7 linked regions of the Homo sapiens genome follow. The protein of the gene in region 1 purifies or fractionates together with the protein of each later gene. This does not show direct contact. Each region holds a gene or a part of one and is shown in the gene's direction. Other genes may lie near its edges.

Region 1 (3,274 bases):
TGTTCTACTTAAGGAGATTAGAGAGGGTGTGACAGTGATTTAATACATGCCTGCCTATGGTTGACAAATGAAAGCACTTCATAAGTAGATTTCAGTTATCCATTTTTCACATTCCATTAGGTAGTTAATGTAGTTCTTTCAGTTTCTCTTCTCATATTGATATATAAAGCCTTGGGAATAGCAGCAAACTGTTACTGCTCATTATTCTTCACTGCCTTCTTTTGGCAAATTGGTACTGGAGTAACTGACAGGGTTCTCCTAATAGGATCTTTCTTGTGGCACCCTGTACCTTTTCATATATTAGCGTTTTTACTGTCTGAGAAAGGAGATGCAAGGAAGTTTACCTGTTGGTACTAATTTTTAAGTTGCTTCCTTTTCCATTGCTAAGAAAGAAGAGGGCTTTCTTAGTTACTGGCCAACTCTCTTGAACACTGTATGGAAGCCATATGGATTGGAAACATTAGCCTCTGCTATATTTTTATAGCAGATGGGTACACACATTTGCATTAGGAATTCAATAGTTCTATGCTTTTGTTAGCTTTGTACTCCACTCCTGGACAAGAAATAACCCTTCACATGGAACCTATTTTTCTCTCCTTCCAAATGCCAGTCTGCTGTTCAAAGGCCACTCTTTTTTTTTTAAATGAAGTAATTAATAGGGCAGTTGGACTCCAAATAAGTCACTTGAGAGCAGTAAGATGTAGTTGTAAATAAGCTTTTTGAATAGGACCCAGCAGTAGCTCATTTAATATCACCTGAGATATTTTACAAACTAAGGATTGTTGTGATGTCAAACTATTTGATTCTACATGTTGTTTCGATACGTGGATATCAAGATATAAAGTAGCAGTTGGCTACCTAAAATGAAAAGAGCAATGTTCCATGGCACCTGAAATGTTAAAAATATTAGAAACTCTCCCCCACCCCATATTCCTCCCACCCCAATTGAGTCTCTCGCAATAATCTTCTCGCTTCTCTAACTAGTTGACTTTCATTATGGATGGGGATAGGCTAAAAAACGGGCCCCTGGGATGGCTGTGCTGCCATCAGTGCTGTTGGTTTACTCACTCTTTTTCTGTCTTCGTTTTTGCATGCTACTGCTCCTGCCCTCTTACAGCCACAGTAGAAGCGGTAGAGGCCCGGGAAGGTATGGCCATATTACTCTGATAGATGTGATCCATGTGTCTGTGTACTGGTTTTTCGAAGCTTTATCAACATTTCAAATATTTTATTATTGCATCACCAGAACTATAACAGTGAGAAAAGGTATAGTTGTTTCTAGGCATGTTAACGAAGCAGGTGTTTCCTTTGTGTCCTATCTTTGCATTAATTTTAAATAACCTTCACCACAGCTACAGTTTTTTTTCTGGGCTCTATCAGCTTTAATGCAACGGCAGAAGCTTAAGCAACTGGTCATGAGAGGTCAAGTGGTTTACTTCTGTATCCCTTCCATGTACAAGAGACATCCATTTGATTCTCAAGAGAGCCAAATAGGTCAGCCTCTTCAGCGATTCTAAAAGATTTCAAGAGCAGAGGCAGAAGTAGACTGGAATTTAGTTCAATTCATTTCTGAGGTTGCCCTAAGGTAGGCAAGTTAAATTAACTTTGTTTCTATGAAAACCATTGGAACTGATAAACTTGTATTATACTTGTAATTGTTTTATTAGGTAAGATGGTTCAAAACGCGAATGCCTTAACTTGGTGTTATAAAAGTTGAATCGGAAGGAAAATATGTAGAAGCTATTTTTAAGTTTTTAACTTATGTACAGCTCCTGGTTGTGCAAGATAGAAAGCTGTCCTAAACGAAAAGATTAGCTCTTTTGTTACTTTTTTTTGTGGTCTATGTGGCCTTTGTGCGAAAAGCAACTACCCTGGGTTTAACTTGTTCAATTATTCTAGTGTTGCCTTTGTTCTAGCATTGAGTATGTTTCTGGTGCATAAGACACTCTTTCTTAAAGGTACTGGGGCCCAGTAAGTACTTGTTAGCTTTTTGTTAGGTATATGTCTACCATGATTATGCATATAGAGCTTTTATGAAAATTACTTTCACAATTTCAGCTGCCCTTTGGGCTTTAAGGAAGCAGTAGCTGCAGCCAAGACTGATTCAGTCAGACATTGCCCATGACTTTCACTAGACGTGTGCTCCATAGCCACCTTTCTGTGTGTTTCTCTAGGAGGTTGCTGTGTGCTAAGAAACTTTTTTTAAGCCTGTTGCTTTGCTGCCTAATTGAGCTCTCTCCACCTGCTTCCTGTTTTTCTGTAGCCATCAGAGGGTTCTCGCTTCAGCACAAGATCCGGAGTTTTGAAGAAGCGCGAGGTCTGGACCGAATTAATGAGCGAATGCCACCCCGAAAGGATAGCATACACGCTGGTGGGCCAATGAAATCTGTAACCTCAGCACACTCACATGCTGCGCACAGGAGCGACCAAGGGAAGAAAGCCCATTCATGACTTAGAGTCCTGCCGTGGCTCAGGTGGATCTAAAACTCAAGAACAAATTCTATTTATTTATTATTGGAAAATGAAAAGCAACTCAAAACAACTTCAACGTGGAGGTGCATTTATAATTCAGTCTGCATTTATTCTGTAAAAAGGTGGCTGTTTTATAAATTCTTTTAATTTATGTTCAATATATATAAAAAGTGCATCTGTTTTGTTTTTCCCTTTTTTCTCCATAATTTTAAGAAATGAATCTGATTGTTGTCAACACATTTGTGAAGTCTTGTGCTATAAAGGGGAACTTCCCCTAATAAAAGGGCCTTGGAAACCTCAAACCTGGGTTTCTGACTTGAACTAGTCAGTCTTCATTATTGTTTTTTGGAAGGTAATGTCTTTCATGTAAGACTAATAACGTTTCAAATGCAAGAAGATTTTTTTCCTTTTCATTTTTTTCCTTTTCTGCTGGGTGCCATTGAAGAAAGTCCTCTTAGATTTCAGTGGCTAAAAGTGCTTCCCTTTTGATGGGAAACTGGATCATAGTAGAACTTCAAAGTGAATAACCCAAATCCAGTGATTTTAAGGGCGAAGGGAAATGTTTTCTATAATAACCTACTTTCTCTGGACTCTCAGTTCGTTTAAATATGTTCTAGTAAACAAAATAAAAAATAATAAGGGATGTTCTTAGATTTACTTAAAATCTGTTCATCTGACCATGGGCATGATTGGTTTAAATTTCCTTAGGACTTTGGAGGAGAAAGATTTTCAGAAAGCTTTCACAATTGCCAGATTATTTTACTTTCATTTTTGAACCCCAGGTGACTTCTGTAAAGGAAGT
Region 2 (3,446 bases), on another chromosome or scaffold:
AGGCCTTGGTGAGAGAAACCCCTGTCTCCTTTAATCCTGGATGGTAGCTGTGGCTTCAGCGGGGACTAAGAGCCAACAGACGGCTTGGGGCTGGCCCCAGGCTGCCCTGACCGCCTTTACAGCATGCCCAGGAGGACGGCTCCAGCCAACCCAGCCTCCCCTTCTTCCTCAGGCCACGGGCAGGCTGAACAAGAGAAAAACCTTTTCTGCCCATGGCAGGGCCCGCCCAGGCAGCCAGCGCCGGGATGACGCGAGCTGTAAATCACCCCGTGGACCACAGACCCAGTGCCATCCCCACGGGTTTCCTTTCCGCTTCTTAATCCTCCTCCTCAGACTCGGTAACACAAAGCAGATTCCTGCTGGGGCCAGCCATGCACAGTGGGCTTGGAGAATGTGAGCCTGGGATTTACCACATCAAGATGCTCCCGCCTCTCACTTTTCCTTTTCTCCCTCCTGAGCCACTATTAGCTGGAGAGCACTCCCTCCCTCTGGCCCGGCTCCCTCGCCCTCCTTGGACCCCACTTCAGCCTTGCCCCAGACTTGCGTCTTGGCTGGCTGCCCCGGCCCACGGGGCTCACCAGGGCCTGTGGTTAGCAGGCCCTCCACGTCGTGGTTTGGCTCCATCCTGGCTCCCCAAGCCTCTGTCTCAGTGAGAGCAGCCTCTGTGTGGTAGAATGAACACTGCCGATCTGGATTCAAATCCTGGCACTGGCAACTTCTAGCACTTCCTTCTCGGAGCCTGGGATTGCTCACTCATGAGAGGGGGGAATGGGAATGCTCCCTGGCAGGTCGGAGGTGCCTGACAGATGTTTTGCTTTAAAAATAACTACTTATTAATAGCTGTTGGTTGAGGGTTGGAGCACGAATCAAAAGGGTGTTTGGAGTTGCTTTAAGAGGGTTATGTTGTACCAGGTTCAGGGACTTTGTTATTTTTCATCCTGGGTGGATCTGGAGGTCTCACAGAGCCTCCCCACCGGCTCTGACCTCCCCAGAGAGCTAAAACCCCACAGGCCCCATGACCTTGCCCCCTGTCCCATCCCTTCCTGGTAGCCAGTTACACCGTCTGCTCAGAGCGCCAAGTTCAGCTGCCAGAATGAGGATTGCACAGATCAGGGCTGCAGGGAACTTAAAGGTGGTCTAACCCAGCAATTTTCGAACTGTGCTCCTTAGCACCCTGATTCTCAGACATGTCCCAGGCTCTCTGTTGGAAGGAATGCAATAGGTCTCTGGGTCCCCCTTCCTCTGTGTCCCCTGACTCCACTGCAATCAAATAGACAGACACATGTTTTCTGTGTTAGTGTTCCATGTACTTCATTCTCCTGCTTAAAAGGAGCTTTCATCGATCTGCTCCAGCCACGCCATTTTACAGATGAGGACACTGAGGCCTAGAGAAGTCAAATGACTTGTTTTAGGTCACCCAGCTGGCAGGTGAATGTGCTACAACTAGAGTGGGCCTTGTGACTCCTAGGGCAGCGCAAGGAAGCTGCAGATGGCCATTCCAGTGGGACTGAGCCTGCAGAGGAGCCTGCCACCCCAGGGTGGGGACGGGCCTCTGAGATCCCTCAGAGGGGTGGCCCTGGGGATTGTGGTGTCAGCCCCAGGTGTCCCCGAGCTTCCAGCGGCCCTGGCTCCCACTACCCACTGTGGTCCTCTTCTTTCCCCAAACCAACCAAAACGCAGGGCCTCTGAAATGCAGCACTAAGGAACAGGGGGACAGTGTGGGCTCTGGAGGCAGCCAGGCCGGGGTTTGAATCCTGGCTCTTCCACTTATCGAACCCTTCAAGGTGGGGGCCCCTCTGCCTGGAGGACTCAGTGAAGGGACATTCTGCAGCTGTCCAGAAACAGGAACCAGGTGGAGCAGGGGCAGCTTTTAATGGCTGGTCATGTCTTTCAGGAGTGACTGGCTGCAGGCAAGACCAAGGCCACCACTGTGGGCCCTCCTTCCAGTCAGGCCTGAGGACAAGGTGAGCTCGCTGAGTCCAGCCTCGTGGTCTTCTCCAAGATGCCGCCAGATGCCCAGCCTACAGCCTCTCAGGGTCGGATCGGAGCACGCCTGCCTCCCTCTCCCCTCCGCCCTCACCCAGCCAATCCGAGGCTGCTTCGCACTTTGCCCTCTGCCTGGTGGGGAGGGGAGAGCTCAGCCCCCGACTCACTCAGACCCCAAGGCCCACTGTCCAGCTGCAGAAATTCGTTGCCAAAGATTGGACAGAGACACCGAAGGAAATGGGGTGGTGAAACCCCACAGCGAAAAGCCACACCGTTGCTCTGTGACTTTTGCTCCTCCTGTTGCCTGAGCCCCATCTCAAGCCAAAGATGAGTCAGTGGTTCTGCTAGGAACTCATGGAATGGATGGGCATTTGATGACCCCTGGGGGTCATCTTGGCCCTCTGACCTGGTGCTCTCTCTCCACTGGGCCTTGTGCTGGCTGAGTGCAAGACAAGCCTTAGGGGCTGTGAGAGGGAGGCTGGGGTGCCTGGGCGGGGCTGGGAGTGGGACCTGAGATCCCTGCCCACTCTCTCCCCTTCATTGGCTGCCCAGGCCACTGGCCCCAGTTCTCAGTGTCCCTTGGGTCCAGGCTCCTTGGGCCCTAAGCATCACCAGAAGGGAGTAAGCAGGGAGAGAAGCAATATTACTCCCTCCCCTACACCAGGGACTTGCCCCAGGGCAGCTACCTATGGGTCTTTGCTTCCCCAGCCAGCCTCTCCTCACTGTGACCCACCCCCATGGGCCCCCGTCCCAGGCAGCCAGCACCATGGGCAGGCCCTGCCATGGACAGAAAAAGAGTTTTTCTCTTGTTCAGCCTGCACGTGGCCTGAGGAAGGAGTAGAGGCTGGGTTGGCTGGAGCCGTCCTACTGGGCAAGATGGCGCCCCACTTGGAGGGCGGTGGTCTGTTACAGGGTGTGCAGGGGCAGAGAAGGAAGGGACCAGGGGACTGGGCCAGTATGTGGAGGATGGGGCCTGCGTGTTCAAAGCCAAGGCCCGCCCCTTCCTTGTGCTCAAATGGCCAAAGCTGTTCACGTCTGTGCTCAACCATCTGCTTCAAATTGAAGTAAAAGCCCCAAAATGTCAAGAAAATACTTGTGTTGAGTGGACTCTGTGGGTGACCAGGACTTTGGCCGGTCATCAGCTGGGGAGTGTGAGGGAGGGGGTTGGTTTCTACCTACAGGTTGAGAGCCCTTCAGGATCAGGCGCTGTCCGAGTGAGAGTGTGTGTGTCTGTGTGTGGAAGGGGGTGGAGGGCGGTTCCCACAGTAGTCTCAGCCTGGACTAGTGACCAGGAGGCCTGGTCAGGAACACATGAGGAGCCCTCTCTGTCCGCACTGCACTCAATCTGTACCATGGATTTATGAGATAGGGGCCCCTATTATTAACCCCGTTTCACAGATGGGGTAACTGAGGCCTCAAGTAGACAGGGTCAGTCGGTGACAGAGCCAGTCATCGAATCA
Region 3 (3,500 bases), on another chromosome or scaffold:
TGTAGTGCAGTGGCACGATCTCAGCTCACTGCAACCTCCGTCTCCCGGGTTTAAGCAATTCTCCTGCCTCAGCCTCCTGAGTAGCTGGAATTACAGGCGTATGCCACCACACCTGGCTAATTTTTGTATTTTTAGTAGAGACTGGGTTTCGCCATGTTGGCCAGGCTGGTCTTGAACTCCTGACCTCAGGTGATCTGCCCACCTTGGCCTCCCAAAGTGCTGGGATTATAGGCATGAGCCACCTTGCCTGGCCCAGGACATTGTTAACTAATAAACCTTGTTTTTTGTTTTTTCCTGTTAACTCTGCCTTATGCTTAGCCTTGGAATTAAAAAAAAAAAGACTGGCATGCTAGTTCTTGACTCCTAGCTAGCCCATTCTTTCAGGGAATCATCTTCTTTGAATGTGTTCTTTGTCCCATAGTATAATAAACTATGAAGAAGAATGAGCATGCATCTATTTTCTGTCATCTGATTTAGCTAACAACTTCTTCACACTGTCACTGTGCTCCCAAGTGAAGGGGGCCAGAGTTGCCTCCATTTGGTGTCCGCAGTGAGCAACAGGTTAACGTTTCAAGGGAAGCTTGAAAACATTCTCGTTTTCAGAGAATGTTGATCTCTTTCAAAAGTCATAGCACTCTCCCACTGTCGACACACACATTTCTGGGGCTACTGTGTCAAATGCCATTCTAGGTGCTGGGCACGTAGTGGTAAAACAAGAACAGGCTGATCCTCCCTATCAAAACTTGTAATCTTGAGGGAATATAGACAATGAAGTAATTGCACAAAGAGCTATGCCATTACAAACTGGAAGACGGTGTGAAGGGAAAGTGCAGGAGGCTAGCACAGAACCTGCTCTCAGTCGCTGAAGGCCATCGTGGACACCATTGTATGAATTTCTTCAGGAAACTCTAGAAAAAGGTGACCTTGGACACTTTAGTTATTATTTAAGCCTTTTTTTTAAAAAAAATTTATTCATTTATCTCTTTTTAAAATAATACTGTTCGGCCGGGCATGGTGGCTCACACCTGTAATCCCAGCACTCTGGGAGGCCGAGGTGGGCAGATCACCTGAGGCCAGGAGTTTGAGACCAGCCTGGCTAACATGGTAAAACCCCATCTCTACTAAAAATACAAAAAATTAGCCAGGCGTGGTGGTGGGCGGCTGTAATCCCAGCTACTTGGGAGGCTGAGGCAGGAGAAAAGCTTGAACCCGTGAGGCAGAGGTGCAGTGAGCCAAGATCGCACCACCGCACTCCAGCCTCGGTGACAGAGGAGACTCTATCTCAAAAAAAAAAAAAACAAAACCCTATTGGTTGGAACATGCATTCTCCTTATTTTAAATCACAAATGAGGGCCTGACAAGGTGGCTCATGCTTATAATCTCAGCATTTTGGGAGGCCACGGCAGGAGGATTGCTGGAGGCCAGGAGATGGAAATTAGCCTGGTCAACATAGTGAGACCCCATCTTTATTAAAAAAAAAATCACAAATGAGAGTAGAGTCTGTTTTGGCTAGTGTTTATTGAGTACTTCTATATGCCAGGTATTTGGTACATTATTTACATGCATTATATCAATTCTCACAATAATTCTGTGAGGTAAGTACTAGTATCTCGTTTTTCAGTTGCAGGACTTGAGCCTTAGAGAGCTTAAGTAATTTGTTGATGATCATAAACTGAAGATGCTGAGTTTGAACCCAGGTCGAGCTGGAAGTCCTAAACGTGTAATTTTATGGCTTAAAAAAAAATAGGCCTACATACTGTTTTTCTACAAAATGTAATTGAGTATTAATTCAATTTAAAGCTGAATAAGATAATTGATTACAATGGGTCTTTAGTTAACATGACCTTGTTTAAAAAGTAGCGTCTTTAGATATCACTTTGTTCAGTTTTTTAAATTTTACAAATGAGAGAACCAAATCCCAGAGAGGTGTCACGTCCTAAGGTTATGCAATTAGTGAAAGAAACTGGACAGTTCTGCAGGGCCAAGGAGGAAAAAATAAACTTTTATTTCTTCTCTTGACTCTGGATTATATGGGCAACTTTGAGCCTCTCTTCACACATCCGATGATGTTCTAATATCTGCAAGCTGCAAAAACTTTTATTCTGAATAAACAATGTGAGTGCTGAAATAATTGAAACCAGTTTTTTTAAGTCCATTACATACTGATGAATTAAAAATTTCAGTTTTATCTTGTTAATACAGCATCATGTGAAATAATTTTTGTGCATTGTTAGAGAAAGTATAGATTTGATGGTCATGTAAAGAGTTTTGTAGATATTTAGTAGTTTTTTAGCAATGTCCCCCCATCCCGCTACATAATGGAGTTTTGTTGGCTATTCAGAAGAAGGGTGAATATTTTGTACTTTTTCTTTTTCAGATTTCACTGTGGGGAAATAAGTGTGATCTGTCTCTCTCAGGTGGAGAAAGTAGTTCTCAGAATACCAATGTACTAAATTCATTGGAAGACCTAAAACCTTTCATTTTATTGAATGATATGGAACATCTTTGGTCATTGCTTAGCAATTGCAAGAAAACAAGAGAAAAAGCTTCTGCTACTAGAGTGTATATTGTTCTCGATAATTCTGGATTTGAGCTTGTTACAGATTTAATATTAGCCGACTTCTTGTTGTCCTCTGAACTGGCTACTGAGGTTCATTTTTATGGAAAAACAATTCCATGGTTTGTTTCTGATACTACTATACATGATTTTAATTGGTTAATTGAACAGGTAAAACACAGTAATCATAAGTGGATGTCCAAGTGTGGGGCTGACTGGGAAGAGTATATTAAAATGGGTAAATGGGTTTACCACAATCATATATTTTGGACTCTGCCTCATGAGTACTGTGCAATGCCTCAGGTTGCACCTGACTTATATGCTGAACTACAGAAGGCACATTTAATTTTATTCAAGGGTGATTTGAATTACAGGAAGTTGACAGGTGACAGAAAATGGGAGTTTTCTGTTCCATTTCATCAGGCTCTGAATGGCTTCCATCCTGCACCACTCTGTACCATAAGAACATTAAAAGCTGAAATTCAGGTTGGTCTGCAGCCTGGGCAAGGGGAACAGCTCCTGGCCTCTGAGCCCAGCTGGTGGACCACTGGAAAATATGGAATATTTCAGTACGATGGTCCCCTTTGACTTGATTTAGGAGCTCTCAGTTGCATAGAAAGATCTGGTGAGCACCTTTTCATCCCCAGAAAAGGAGCACGTGAATTGAGTCGCCTGGCGGCTCTGTACGCGCTCAGGGAAGCTTAGCTTCTTGGTGCCCATCTACGTGCACTGGATGATTTTTCTTTTGAACATTTTGCCCCACTACACTGTTTTGGGGATAGCTGGGTTAAGCAAGTTAAAGATATTTACATTTATATTGGAATTTTAGCAACTTTTTTTCAGGTTAAATATATAATTTCAAGTGCTTTTAATGAACTTATTTTTAATTGGCTAGGGAGCAAAAAATAAGTGAGTTCTGCTTTTAGTTAGTTAACCTTGTTCT
Region 4 (3,500 bases), on another chromosome or scaffold:
CATTGTTTTTCTCCGAAGAAGGTAGGACTGAATCATCCCTAAAGTTCCTTCCAGCTCTGCCAGTCTGTAGTCTGACAGTCTTGATTCTGTAACCCTCCCAAGAAAACACAAGAGTTTTAAGCACCTTTGTTTCTTTGAGGATACCCCTGTGTGTACTCCACTCTTCTGATGTCTTTCTGGACTCCTCGATCCTTGTAAAATTGATTCTGTTTATTGGAGGTGAAATTCATTGGGTGATTCCTGTGTACAACGTAAAAGTTCTGTCATTAACTGAATAGCCATAAAAAGCCTTTAAATCTCCGTAAAGCAGCTGTTAGATGAGAAAACTTAGTTCCTTAAAGCTTTTCAAATGAGCACAGCACAAAAAGAAATGAAGGTGCTGCTGAATGTCAAACTGATGAGTACTATAGCTGGAGGGTATAGATGGAAATAGTACTCATGAATGTGGATCACAAAATGAAGCTAAATTCTTACTATTCAGATATGATTTGTTCAGGTGCCCTAGAATTTATGCATTTGGACACCTTCTGTGTATAAGGCACTGTTCTGCATTCTTGATGGGGTGGGGACAGCCTCAGAGAGGTATAAGACACAGTCTTTATCATGAAAGAGCTGAGCACAGTTAACTATAAAAGCGAAGCACATGACATGTATCTTAGAAGGGCTCCTGTTAAGTACCACAGGAGGTCAGAGTAGGGATGTCAGGGCAAGCTACATGGAGGGCTGGCTTTTAGCTGGGCTTGGATGAATGCTTAGAATGTGGACAAGTGGAGATTAGAGAAAAACAGGTCATTCCAGATGGAGAAAACTTACCAGGAGCAAAGCAAGATAAGGCTCGGTGTATTTTTTCTATTTCAGGTAGAAATGTAAATCTACAAGTTGAGATCTATTGAGGTCATTTAAAAATCTATCATTTTTCAGGCTGGGTACTGTGGCTCACGCCTGTAATCCCAGTACTTTGGAAGGCCAAGGCTGGCAGATCACCTGAGGTCAGGATTTCGAGACCAGCCTGGCCAACATGGTGAAACCCCATCTCTATCAAAAAATACAAAAATTCGTCGGGCATGGTGGTGCACACCTGTAGTCCCAGCTACCGAGGAGGCTGAGGTGGGAGAATCGCTTGAACCTGGAAGGTGGAGGTTGTAATGAGCCAAGATTATGCCACTGCACTCCAGCCTGGGCAACAGAGTGATACTCTGTCTCAAAAAAAAAAAAAATGTGTGTGTATATATATATGTGTGTATATATATACACACACATATATGTATATATATATGCGTATGTATATATACACACACACGTGTATGTGCGTGTGTACACACATATGTGTATGTGCGTGTGTACACACATATATGTGTATGTGCGTGTGTACACACATATATGTGTATGTGCGTGTGTACACATATATGTGTGTATACACATATATGTGTATGTGCGTGTGTACACACATATGTGTATGTGTGTGTGTATATACACATATGTGTGTATATGTATATATGTGTGTATATATGTATATGTGTGTATATATGTATATATGTATATGTGTATATATATGTGTATATATATATGAAATTTTTCATAAATTCTTTTCATTATCTATTATCACTGAAATTCCATCATACCATTAAGATACATGCAGAATTGTTCTCACTCATAGGTGGGAATTGAACAATGAGAACACATGGACACAGGAAGGGGAACATCACACACCGGGTCCTGTTATGGGGTCGGGGGAGGGGGGAGGGATAGCATTAGGAGATATACCTAATGTAAATGACGAGTTAATGGGTGCAGCACACCAACATGGCACATGTATACATATGTAACAAACCTGCACATTGTGCACATGTACCCTAAAACTTAAAGTATAATTAAAAAAAAAAGATACATGCAAATTTATGTCTGTTAGGTATTTACCATATGGAAAAACTAAAATAATCAAGAAAGGAAATTCAGTAGGTGGTTGACAGTTTAAATACAAATCACAAATGACATCTTTTTAAATATAACAAGTAGCTTATTTTTAAAGGTGTCACTTACTTTGCAAAGGATAAGGAGAACTGTTATTAAGAATTTACCAGGTTGGAATGGCTAGTGTTTATGGGAGAGAGTTTAGCACAAGACGGAGTGAGACAAGATTGCTGGGGTCTTATTTTGAATCCAGCAGCCAACGCTGTATGGAATAGTGAAAAAGTTGCCTCTTTCTGTGCTTGTTTTCTACTTGGTATCTTTAAGAATGGGCTATTTAGGAGCAAGGAGCCTAGCAGAAAGCATCTGTCAATCTTCTAAAACTTTACCTACAAAAGTTTTACTGGCTTGTGTCCCACCAGTGTGTTTCAAAGCCAGAAAGTATATTGGCCACAAGCACCTGTAGGTGGCTGAGGTGTGACTGTAGTCATCCGTGAGTCATGTTTTCAGTATGTATTGAAATTCCTTATTTGGACTTGATTTCAAAGGTAGAAGGGCCTTTTACAGGTGAAGGAACTGAGATTGAGACACATCAAGAGTCTAGCCTCGAGCTTCTGTTCAGTGTTTTTCCCAAAATTATTGTTTCCTTCTGGTCTGGGACTCTAGAGCAAAGATTGAAAACTGTGGCCCAAAGTGTGAGCCAAATCCAGCCACCATGCGTTTTTTTTAAATCAAGTTTTCCTGGAAAACAGCCAAACCCATTTATTTGGTATTGCCTATGTCTGCTTCCATGCTGCAGTGGCAGAGTTGAGTAGTTACAACAGAGATTGCATGGCCAGCAACACCTAAAACATTTATTAGTTGGCCCTTTACAGAAAACGTTTGATGCTCTCTGCCTTGCAACATTGTGTACGTGGTGGTCAGTGTGCTTGGAATCATAGGTGCAATGTAGGATGCAGACTTAGAAAACAGTGCCCTTGCTCCCAAGGAATTATTTGCACTTTAGATGACAAGGCATGTTTGAGACATGTGAAAGGAACAATAACAAGTTATGTAAGAGAGGAGACAGGTTCTGGACTGCAGGCTATATTTTCAGACCAACCAGAATAGTTACGATAATATCATTAACATAAATAAAATACTAAGTATTTAGCTACGTAAAAGAAACGATTTATTTGCACTTTGGATTATACAGTTCTTCATTCATTGATTCAAAAATTATTGCCAGTCTGCTCATGTGCCAGGCATTGTTCTAGATGATAGGGCACTGCATCTCTAAATGCCAAATTTCGTATCCTTGCTGGTGGAAGGCAATGTCCTCTTGCTTTATGCCATGACACAAACTAAGCTCCTGCTTTAACTATAGACAGCTAAATCTTAAACGAACACTTTTCAGTCAGTTTAGTTTTCTCTTAAAGTACTTTAATTCCGTTAAAACCTGAGCCACCAGATTTCCTGTCTGCCTGTCTCTTCCTTGGCCTTAATCCAAAACTCTGCTGAGGAAGAAGATTCGTTGGTACACTGACAATTGTTTTATAATCCATTCATTTCATAACCCCTCATTTGCTACCCAAAAGTGGGGACCTAAATCT
Region 5 (3,500 bases), on another chromosome or scaffold:
AGCATTGTTTCCAGCTCGGCTAAAGGTGGGCATACACGGAATCTTTCTTCTCAGCCTGATGATGATCCCGCTGTCTCTTTCTCTCGTTGGACAACCACAGGGACCCCCATCAACCGAATCCCCATCATGGCCAAACAGATCCTGGACCTGTACATGCTGTATAAGCTGGTGACCGAGAAGGGAGGCCTGGTGGAGATCATCAACAAGAAGATCTGGAGGGAGATCACCAAAGGCCTAAACCTGCCCACATCCATCACCAGCGCCGCCTTCACCCTCAGGACGCAGTGAGTGGCCAGGGCCTGGGAGAAGGAAGCTGAGGCTGGAGAAAGGGGATGTTGTAACCTAGAGGAGAGGAAGGAAGGAAATTCCTTTGTATGGTTAGCAAGATGAGTGGATTCCCGAAACAGTGGGGAGCTTTCTGAGATGAATCCCTCACTAAACCAAGTAGTGATGAGAACCACCATTTACCAAGTGTCTACTCTGTGCTGGTACTTTACTATTTCATTTAAACCTCACAGTCAACCCTGTAAAGTAGGTATGCCCCCATTTCCCACATTACAAAAATGAAGTCTCCATGGTTAAATAATTTGGCTAAGGTCATATACCAGCCAGTAAGTGGTAGAGCTGAGATTCAGACCTGGGCTTCTGTCTCTAAGACCTGTGCCCCTTCCAGGACATTGTCTTCCAAACAGCATCTCCACCCCAAGTGGCCCCTCTTACCTGATATTCAGCTTACCCAGCGGCAGAGGACCCAGAGAAAGGCAGGCAGGAAGGCCCCCTTGGATTGGTGACCTGGTTTTGTCAGCATTTGAGTTAATTACATGGGTGATGGAAGCGGTGAAACCAATAGTAGCACTGAAGAATGAGGGCCAGAGAGGAATCTTTTCTTCTGGAACACTCTGGAAGTTGTTCTGTGAAGAGTATGCAATGAACAACTGACATCAGTTAGGTAGCATGTTGTAGCTACAACCAGAATGGCAAGGTTCTTGGGTAGAGAACTGCTTCTTGGGACCTAAGACACAAAGAATGACAGTGTCTAGGTCCCATGCACAATGGGAAGAATTGCTCCTATCTGACTAGCCCAGCTCTGAATGGTTATAAGATCAAGAAGTCAGAAAGCCCTTGTAAAACATGGGCCTAATTTTTCCCAGGGCTTCAAAACAAATGTGAAAACGCCAACTAAGATGTTATTTATTTCCCCTAATGAATGGTGCTTCAAAGTAGAGCCTATTTAGGATTGAGTGGCAGTCAGAGGAGGCTGGGGCAGAGTGTCCGGCCATCCCAGACTTTTCTGCCAAGTATACCAAGGTTGCAATCCTTTGCCCTAGAGTCCTGCCCAACAGAGACTGCTTCCAGAGACCCACCAACCTCAACTGGGTGGTCTCTGGTGCTGTTTTGGATTATTCTCCCTGCTTGCTTCCTTTCCTCCAGGTACATGAAGTATCTGTATGCCTATGAGTGTGAGAAGAAAGCCTTGAGTTCCCCAGCCGAGCTCCAGGCAGCAATTGATGGCAACCGCAGGGAGGGCCGGCGGCCCAGCTACAGCTCCTCCCTCTTTGGCTACTCACCTGCTGCGGCTACTGCTGCTGCCGCTGCCGGGGCCCCTGCCCTTCTCTCCCCACCCAAGATCCGCTTTCCCATCCTTGGGCTTGGCTCCAGCAGTGGTACCAATACCAGTAGCCCTCGGATATCCCCAGCAACCACTCTCAGGAAAGGTCAGCAGGGCTCCTGGGGGAGAAGGAAGAAAGGGAGGAAGGGATGCCAGTTCCCTGTGTTCAAGACTGGGGTTTTGGGGCAAGAGGGTCAATTGTGGATTGGTCCAGCTCCAGTTCCTTTGCAGGTGATGGAGCCCCAGTGACAACAGTGCCTGTGCCAAATCGTCTGGCTGTGCCCGTGACCTTGGCAAGCCAGCAGGCTGGTACTCGGACCGCCGCACTGGAGCAGCTGCGGGAGCGGCTGGAGTCAGGGGAGCCTGCTGAGAAGAAGGCATCGAGGCTGTCTGAGGAGGAGCAGCGCCTGGTGCAGCAGGCCTTCCAGCGCAACTTTTTCAGCATGGCACGGCAGCTCCCCATGAAGATCAGGATCAACGGCAGGGGTGAGCCAGGCTCAGGGCCGGGCCTTCCCTTCCTGGAAACCCCAAGCCCATTCACGCCTCCTGGGACTGGTGGGGCAGGGGTGGTGAGGCACATACTCCTGACCTGGAAGAGGCCCCTCCAGGTTCTGCCTTCCAGGCCCCTAGAAGAGAGGCACTGAGATCTTAGTTCACCAAGCTGAGGTTGTTTGGTAGAGGGGACCACATGTTGCCTCAGGCAGTGCCCTGTTCTCTAGTAAGAGGGAAAAGCAGTTATTCACAGAGGAGGAGCCAGAGGCCTTCAGAGAGCTGCTGCGTTTCCCCACCAGCCATTACCCCAGCACCTCACTGGATGTAGGCAAGAGCAGGGCACCGTCTGCAGGTCTGGGAGGAAGACACCCCATGTTCCTGAGGCTCAGCGAGGGGCCAAGTTGCCCCGGGCTGGACAGTGGGACTCAGGAATATAGACAGAAGGAGGAAACACAAGTTTGGCAGCATAATTGACATCCTTTCCCTTCCTCTTCACATTGTTCTGGTGCCCCACATTCTCTTCCTCAAGCCACACGCCCCTTTTCCCATTCACACACATTCTTTCCCATTCTGGTCCTGATGCTATCTCAAAGCAAACATGAATGAGATGTGTGGGAAGGAGCCAGGTGTGAAGGGAGCTATACATATTCCCAGGCTGCCCCTCCTACCCCATTGCCCTTGGGGACCAGAAGGAAACTGGGAGGTAACAGCTCATCCAGGGCCAGGTACCCTGCTCCTGCACAAAGCAAAGGGCTGTTAGAAAAGACAGCTCACCGGGAAGAATTCTGAGTCTGGGGTGAGCCAGCCAAAGGCCGTGTGTGCCAGCACTTGCAGGCTTCCACAAACGCCAGCTGCCTGGGTGGTCATGGAGGGGAGGGGCTGAGGGCGTAGACTCCTCTCTCTGAGGGACTCAGAGTCAAAGGAAAGAAAGGGCAGGTGGGTCCTCAAAGTTGGGGCTGGGTCTCATTGATCTCTGATTTCCTGGGCCTGGTGTATAGTGTAGTTCAGGGTTTGCCCGTCACTTGGAAAGTGCCAGTGCAGAGTGGTGGGGCCGGAGCCGGCCTCCTTGCCTACTGTGATTCCTTTTCTCTGGGAGCAGAGGTAGTTGAGGGGATGAACTGGGTCAGTGGAAAAAGCCAGCAACAGGAGATTGGCGAGCCTGGGATCTCCTGCCATACCCTACACTCAGGAGAAGGTTACATAGATGCCTTTTAACAGCGTGAGGCTTTGACCAGGGGTGGCCAGGCAGCATCAGAGAGGACAACAGGAGTGCTGTGGAAGGCTTGACCAGGCCCACTGTCTCCCTGTCCCCAGCAGAAGACAGAGCAGAGGCCTCGGCTGCAGCACTGAACCTGACCACGAGTAGCATTGGGAGCATTAACATGTCTGTGGACATCGA
Region 6 (3,500 bases), on another chromosome or scaffold:
CAAACACCCTTCAATGGCTTAATTTTACTTAGTGGTCATTCATATTCTTACTCCTGGTTATCTCTATAGTTGTATCTTTTTTTTTTTTTTTTTTGACAGGGAGTCTCTGTTGTCACCCAGGCTGGAGTGCAATGGTGCAATCTTGGCTTACTGCAACCTCCGCCTCTCGGGTCCAAGCAATTCTACTGACTCAGTAGCTGGGATTACAGGCACATGCCACCATGCCCAGCTAATTTTTGTATTTTTAGTAGAGACGGGGTTTCACTATGTTGGCCAGGCTGGTCTTGGGCTCCCGACCTCAGGTGATCTGCCTACCTCAGCCTCCCAAAGTGCTGGGATTATATAGGTGTGAGCCACCACACCTGGCCTATAGTTGTATCTTGAATGCTTCCCCCCTTCACACTCTCACACCAGCCATTATGAAATTTTTTTGTTCTCCTTCAGGCCTCTACATATGCCAAGTTGCCTCTGCCACAATCATTCTTCCTAAATTTTAGCCTGTCCCCTTTATGTTCTTTAGGACTTAGCTGGAGTGCCTTTACTGATGTAAGCTGGACTAGGTACTCATCCTTTGTAATTTCATAGTACTTTATTCCCCCAGTTCCCATCGCATTATCAAGCTATGTAAGAAAAAAAAGCAATGTGCTGCTCACTAGTGTCTAGCAAAAAACTTGATATTTAGTAGGCACTGGGTAGTTGAATGAATGAACAGGAGCCTGCATAGTCCAAGGAATTATTTGCCTGTGGCATTAAGCAACCAACCTTCCTGGATCCTAGTCCATGCTGTGGGATTTGGTTATCTTTTCCTGCCCCATTCCCACCCATTGATTCTTTTAAGTATCCCAGTTGGGTCACTGTCACTCTCCATAGTTTTTAGGTGCTCCCTATTGCGTCTAGGTTAAACCATCCCTTTGCCTTTCCATAATGTGGCCTCCAGTGCCCTGCCCTCTAGAGCTGTTTCCTGAGCCTCATGTAGCCAAACAAGCAAGCGTCTCATTCATGCCTTGCACTCTCCTAGCTGTGATTTTTTTTTTTTTTTTGAGACAGTCTTGCTTTTTCACCTAAGCCGGAGTGCAGTGGCGTGATCTCAGCTCACTGCAACCTCCGTCTCCTGGGTTCAAGTGATTCTCCTGCCTCAGCCTCCCGAGTAGCTGGGACTACAGGCATGTGCCACCCAGCCCAGCTAATTTCTGTATTTTTAGTAGAGACAGGGTTTCACCATGTTGGCCAGGCTGGTCTGGAACTCCTGGCCTCAAGTGATCTGCCCACCTTGGCCTCCCAAAGTGCTGGGATTACAGGCGTGAGCCACCGCTCCCGGCTAGCTGGGACTCTTGACTATGTCTTCTCCCTCTATCCAAAACTTCCTTCCTTCAAGGCCAGTTTCTTCAGAAAACTACTCAGAACCCAGAAATCCAGAGAACTGCTACTGTCTGTGCCTGTCATTCAGCTAGTAGCCACATGCTGCCTCACCATATTGTATCTTCTCAATTTTGTGACTCTGCCCTGACTGGTGCTTCTTGTGGGCATAACCCAAAACAGCAGACCTCAGTTTGCTGGTTACCTAAGGAAAAAGCAAGACATGGATGAGTAGTTAAGACAAATGGGTTTAAATAAGCTGAGCCAAAGCCCAAGAGATTTGCTAGTAACCAAAAGTATTTGGAGTTGTATTTGAATATATTACCCCTGCTGACACTCCCACATGGTTCTGACTTAATCTCTTTCTTGCCATAGGCCTGGGCTCTAACATCTTCCGCCTGCTAGACAGCCTGCGGGCCCTGTCAGGCCAGGCTGGATGTCGCCTCCGTGCCCTGCATCTCAGTGACCTGTTCTCACCACTGCCCATCCTGGAGCTGACACGTGCTATCGTGCGAGCACTGCCCCTGCTACGGGTCCTCTCTATTCGTGTTGACCACCCAAGCCAGCGGGACAACCCTGGTGTGCCAGGGAATGCAGGGCCCCCTAGCCACATAATAGGCGATGAGGAGATACCAGGTGAAGCACTGTGTGTGTGTTTGTGTGTGTGCACGCACGTGTATCCCCACACAAAGGTGCAGATGCATTCGTATGGGGAAAGGGGAAGGACCTCTTCTATCACTCATTCCTGGCTTATCTGGAACCTATCCCCCCTTTAGAGCCTACCACTAAGATACTCTTGAGCTAGACAGGGCCTAAACCACCATAAGACCAGCAGAGAGTGACCAAGGCAGCTTGGTCTCCAGAAAAGGAAAAGAACTGATCTTTAGACTGGATTAGTTCCCCTGCTGTATGTTCCCTTAGTTCTTGTATGTCTCCTATCCCACCACTCTGCATACTTTATTTGCTTGTGTCTGGGTAGCCTGTCTTCCTGGTCTAAAATTTCTACAAGGGCAAGGACTAAATCTCATATTTAGTGCTCAATTCCTAGAATCTAGCACAGTGCTGACATATGGTAGGCACTCAACGACAAGTGAATGAATAAATAATTTTTTAGATGAATCCCTTAAGAACAGGATGGGACCTGCTATGGGAGTGAGGTAGAGATGGCCAGCTGGAATCTTCTTTCCCCACCATATCCAGAAAACTGCCTGGAGCAGTTGGAGATGGGATTTCCACGGGGAGCCCAGCCAGCCCCACTGCTGTGCTCCGTTCTGAAGGCCTCGGGTTCTCTGCAGCAGCTGTCCCTGGATAGTGCCACCTTTGCCTCTCCCCAGGATTTTGGGCTTGTTTTGCAAACACTCAAAGGTAGGACCCAGCCAGAATGGTGAAGGGAGAGGAGTAGGTGGGGACCTAGCACTGTTCTCTAGGAAAGCTAAGGTCCATGGTCCATGGTCTCTGCCTCCTATCCAGAGTACAACCTAGCCCTGAAAAGACTGAGCTTCCATGACATGAATCTCGCTGACTGTCAGAGCGAGGTGCTCTTTTTGCTACAGAATCTGACTCTGCAAGGTAAGTTCCTTATTCAGAACCTGGACATTTCCTGGGTCTTCACTATGGTTCTGCCATAATCTGAGTGAGCAAACCACTGTTCCTTTCTTGGCCTTGTGTCCTCAGCTATAAAATGGATATAGAACCTGCATGATTTTCCTTCTAAAAGCCCCAACCTCAATTCCTCCTCTACTAAACATGAGAAATCGCTCTTTTAGAGTGCTTCACCCAAAAGTTGCTCTTACCTTTCAGAGGTGGACAAAATGGTGGTGGTGGGGCAAAATAAATGTACTGTGCCAGGCTCCCCTCATAGACTTTTCTCTGATCCCCACCCCCGCATAGAGGGTGGCCAGTGTTAGGGAAAGAAGGAAGTGAATGGAGAATTGTCCATGCAGAGAACCTTCTTATAGGGAACATTTAGGTTCAGTCTTTAGTTTGGATTCTGATTTAGTTCCAGCCTTGCTTGGAGTCTAGACAAATTCCTTCCTCTTTTTGGGCCTCTATAATGTTAATACCCCTTGCTAGGGCCAACTGGGGCAGGAGGGGCAGCACCAGTCCTAATGCAGCCATCAGAATTTACTATAATTTTTCTTGAC
Region 7 (2,497 bases), on another chromosome or scaffold:
TCCCCAGCAATAGGTCTTATTGGATAAATGGTTAATAATCACTCGTTTGCAGGTATTGGGAAGGCTTCACTGAGGCCTGTGATTCCTGGAAGCCCCACGTGGCCTGTGATGTGGTGAGAGTGTGACTTGGCTGGGGCAGCACTGCATGGGGTTGGGTTGCAATAAGACCGGGTATCCTCAGAGCACCACAGAAGTTGGGAAGGCCTGAGTTTGTAAAAGGGCCTTTCTTCTATGTCCTGGTAATGGGTGACTCCTGTCTGCTGCCGTGGGCCTGTCCCCATCTGGATCAAGGTGCAGGCAGGACCAGGCAGCCCCCCAGATCTCTTCAAATGTGTCTCCACCCACTCAAAGTTTTGCTTTCCTTTCTTGTGCCATGAACAAGCTGTGTGACCTTAGGCAGGTCTCCTGACCCCTCTGGGGCCTTGAGTTGCTCATCTACCAAATGGAGAGGTGGGAAGAGATGGCCATGAAGGTGCCAAGTGCCTGATTCTGGGAGCCCAGCATCCCAGACAGAGGCTTCTCTCTCTAGCTCTGGGGTGTGTCACTGAGGGCTGTGAATGGCAGGGACCAGCAGCCCAGCGGATTAAGTACTTAAACTGCTGGGCCAAGAATTGGGTCAGCTGTAGTCACAGGGCAGTGTATGCAAAGGGAATCCGCAGAGCCAGATTTGGCCCTGATTTTATAGCTGGGTTTGGAGTTTCTGCCAGCTCTGGGCAGGACACAAAGTAGGCATTAAAAAACAAAGCCTGGCTGACGGGACTCTGGAAAAAGAAGTAGACTCCTTCAGGTGTAGAGCTGGCAAGAAGCCAGGAACTGTTCACAGGTGAAAAAGGATCCTTGGATTTTGTTCCCAGCCTGCCTGTGACTGGGGACCATGCCGTTCATCAGGATTTGGCTTTGACTTTACAGTTGCAATGGGATGAGGACCCATCTGCTTGAGGGACAAGCTGGTGTTGGGGCAGGGGAATCGAACATATCCAGTTTTTGTTTTTTTTTATTTTCAAGATGGAGTCTCGCTCTGTCGCCCAGACTGGAGTCCAGTGGCGTGATCTCGGCTCACCACAAGCTCCGCCTCCCGGGTTCACACCATTTTCTGCCTCAGTCTCCGGAGTAGCTGGGAATACAGGCGCCCACCACCATGCCCGCCTAATTTTTTTTGTATTTTTAGTAGTTTACCATATGAGAGGTTTCACCATGTTAGCCAGGATGGTCTCGATCTCCTGACCTCGTGATCCACCTGCCTCAGCATCCGAAAGCACTGGGATTACAGGTGTGAGCCACCAGGCCCAGCCCAGACCCAGTTTTCAATCTCATCCCATCCCTCACTCATTTCTAGGCTGTCTGGTCTTGGACCACCTACTCTCCCAAGCCTGAGATTCTTTAAGCTAGCATTAGCAACACCTGTTTTTCAGCATGACTGTGTGGGTTGGAAGTGATATATGTATAGCACCTGGTAACCTGCTCACTTAGTGCCAATAATTATTCCGGGAGGTACTTAATGCTGTGGCACCTGTTGTATTCTTTGTACTGCTGGAGTAAAATACTTCCTGCAGAGAGAGACCAGACTTACTGTGGATAACATGATTTGGGATGATTTTATCTGCAAATAAAATACAGAATCCAAACAGAATCACATCAACCTTTAAACTCAGCGGCACTGCCCCCAAACTTTCAGCTTCAGGATTGGAATGGAAGTCTGACTGAGGGACAGTTTCCTATGTTGCCCCAGAATATTCTCCCGTGGCTCCCACCTTATATACTCCACAGCCTCCCGAGTGCAAAGCACAGTCCCTGGCCTATGGCATGCACCCAGTATGCCACATGGATGTGCAAAGAAGGAATGGAATTTCTCTTTTCAAATATCTACGTGACCAGGCACCTGCTCTGCTTTTCTTTCAGATCTTCCCAGACCCGTCAGATTTTGACCGCTGCTGCAAACTGAAGGACCGTCTGCCCTCCATAGTGGTGGAACCCACAGAAGGGGAGGTGGAGAGCGGGGAGCTCCGGTGGCCCCCTGAGGAGTTCCTGGTCCAGGAGGATGAGCAAGATAACTGCGAAGAGACAGCGAAAGAAAATAAAGAGCAGTAGAGTCCCTGTGGACTCCCATGGGTCATACCAGCCAGCATCTGTTCCTGAACTGTGTTTTTCCCATCATGACGGAAGAAGAGAGTGAGCCGCAATTGTTCTGAAAATGTCAAACGAGGCTTCTGTTTTGCACCTGCAGATCACCGAGTTGGTTTTCTTTTCTTTTCTTGCCTTTTTTTTTTTTTGAAATTTGCCGAGCAGTGGAGCCCTCTGACAATTTGCAAGGCCCTCTGAGAAAGGAAGCTGCTTAGAGCCAGGGGGTTAGTGGGTGAGGGGAGCGAGTGCTGTTTTTGAGATCATTATCTGAACTCAGGCAGCCTAGTAGAGGCAGTGGTGGGATTCCAATGGGTCTTGGTGGGTGGGAGGTGGGGCATGTGCAAAGCAAGCAAGGAACATTTGGGGTAAGAAAACA

What was found.
Region 2: the proteins of PPP3CC (region 1) and ATOH8 purify together in Homo sapiens (pull-down; one study listed by IntAct). This does not show direct contact.
Region 3: the proteins of PPP3CC (region 1) and DCPH1 fractionate together in Homo sapiens (co-fractionation; one large-scale study listed by BioGRID). This does not show direct contact.
Region 4: the proteins of PPP3CC (region 1) and ETV6 purify together in Homo sapiens (co-immunoprecipitation; one large-scale study listed by IntAct). This does not show direct contact.
Region 5: the proteins of PPP3CC (region 1) and ARID3B purify together in Homo sapiens (affinity purification with mass spectrometry; 2 studies listed by BioGRID and IntAct, with this or other methods). This does not show direct contact.
Region 6: the proteins of PPP3CC (region 1) and LRRC41 purify together in Homo sapiens (affinity purification with mass spectrometry; 3 studies listed by BioGRID and IntAct, with this or other methods). This does not show direct contact.
Region 7: the proteins of PPP3CC (region 1) and LBH purify together in Homo sapiens (affinity purification with mass spectrometry; one large-scale study listed by BioGRID and IntAct). This does not show direct contact.

The regions. Positions count from the first base shown.
Region 1 is NC_000008.11:22,538,352-22,541,625, forward strand, and holds the end of PPP3CC (serine/threonine-protein phosphatase 2B catalytic subunit gamma isoform), read left to right. Parts: intron 1-1,117; coding exon 1,118-1,147; intron 1,148-1,380; coding exon of another isoform or gene 1,381-1,517; exon of another isoform or gene 1,518-1,585; intron 1,586-2,263; coding exon 2,264-2,451; 3' UTR 2,452-2,774; downstream 2,775-3,274. UniProt on the Homo sapiens protein: Calcium-dependent, calmodulin-stimulated protein phosphatase which plays an essential role in the transduction of intracellular Ca(2+)-mediated signals. Dephosphorylates and activates transcription factor NFATC1.
Region 2 is NC_000002.12:85,784,991-85,788,436, forward strand, and holds part of ATOH8 (transcription factor ATOH8), read left to right. Parts: intron 1-1,894; coding exon 1,895-1,900; 3' UTR 1,901-3,446. UniProt on the Homo sapiens protein: Transcription factor that binds a palindromic (canonical) core consensus DNA sequence 5'-CANNTG- 3' known as an E-box element, possibly as a heterodimer with other bHLH proteins.
Region 3 is NC_000006.12:151,465,966-151,469,465, forward strand, and holds part of DCPH1 (damage-control phosphatase ARMT1), read left to right. Parts: intron 1-2,377; coding exon 2,378-3,145; 3' UTR 3,146-3,500. UniProt on the Homo sapiens protein: Metal-dependent phosphatase that shows phosphatase activity against several substrates, including fructose-1-phosphate and fructose-6-phosphate.
Region 4 is NC_000012.12:11,873,174-11,876,673, forward strand, and holds part of ETV6 (transcription factor ETV6), read left to right. Parts: intron 1-3,500. UniProt on the Homo sapiens protein: Transcriptional repressor; binds to the DNA sequence 5'-CCGGAAGT-3'. Plays a role in hematopoiesis and malignant transformation.
Region 5 is NC_000015.10:74,589,720-74,593,219, forward strand, and holds part of ARID3B (AT-rich interactive domain-containing protein 3B), read left to right. Parts: exon of another isoform or gene 1-100; coding exon 101-284; exon of another isoform or gene 285-342; intron 343-736; exon of another isoform or gene 737-1,387; intron 1,388-1,431; coding exon 1,432-1,715; intron 1,716-1,840; coding exon 1,841-2,095; intron 2,096-3,415; coding exon of another isoform or gene 3,416-3,418; coding exon 3,419-3,500. UniProt on the Homo sapiens protein: Transcription factor which may be involved in neuroblastoma growth and malignant transformation. Favors nuclear targeting of ARID3A.
Region 6 is NC_000001.11:46,279,617-46,283,116, reverse strand, and holds part of LRRC41 (leucine-rich repeat-containing protein 41), read left to right. Parts: intron 1-1,731; coding exon 1,732-1,992; intron 1,993-2,556; coding exon 2,557-2,721; intron 2,722-2,826; coding exon 2,827-2,925; intron 2,926-3,500. UniProt on the Homo sapiens protein: Probable substrate recognition component of an ECS (Elongin BC-CUL2/5-SOCS-box protein) E3 ubiquitin ligase complex which mediates the ubiquitination and subsequent proteasomal degradation of target proteins.
Region 7 is NC_000002.12:30,255,534-30,258,030, forward strand, and holds part of LBH (protein LBH), read left to right. Parts: intron 1-1,899; coding exon 1,900-2,088; 3' UTR 2,089-2,497. UniProt on the Homo sapiens protein: Transcriptional activator which may act in mitogen-activated protein kinase signaling pathway.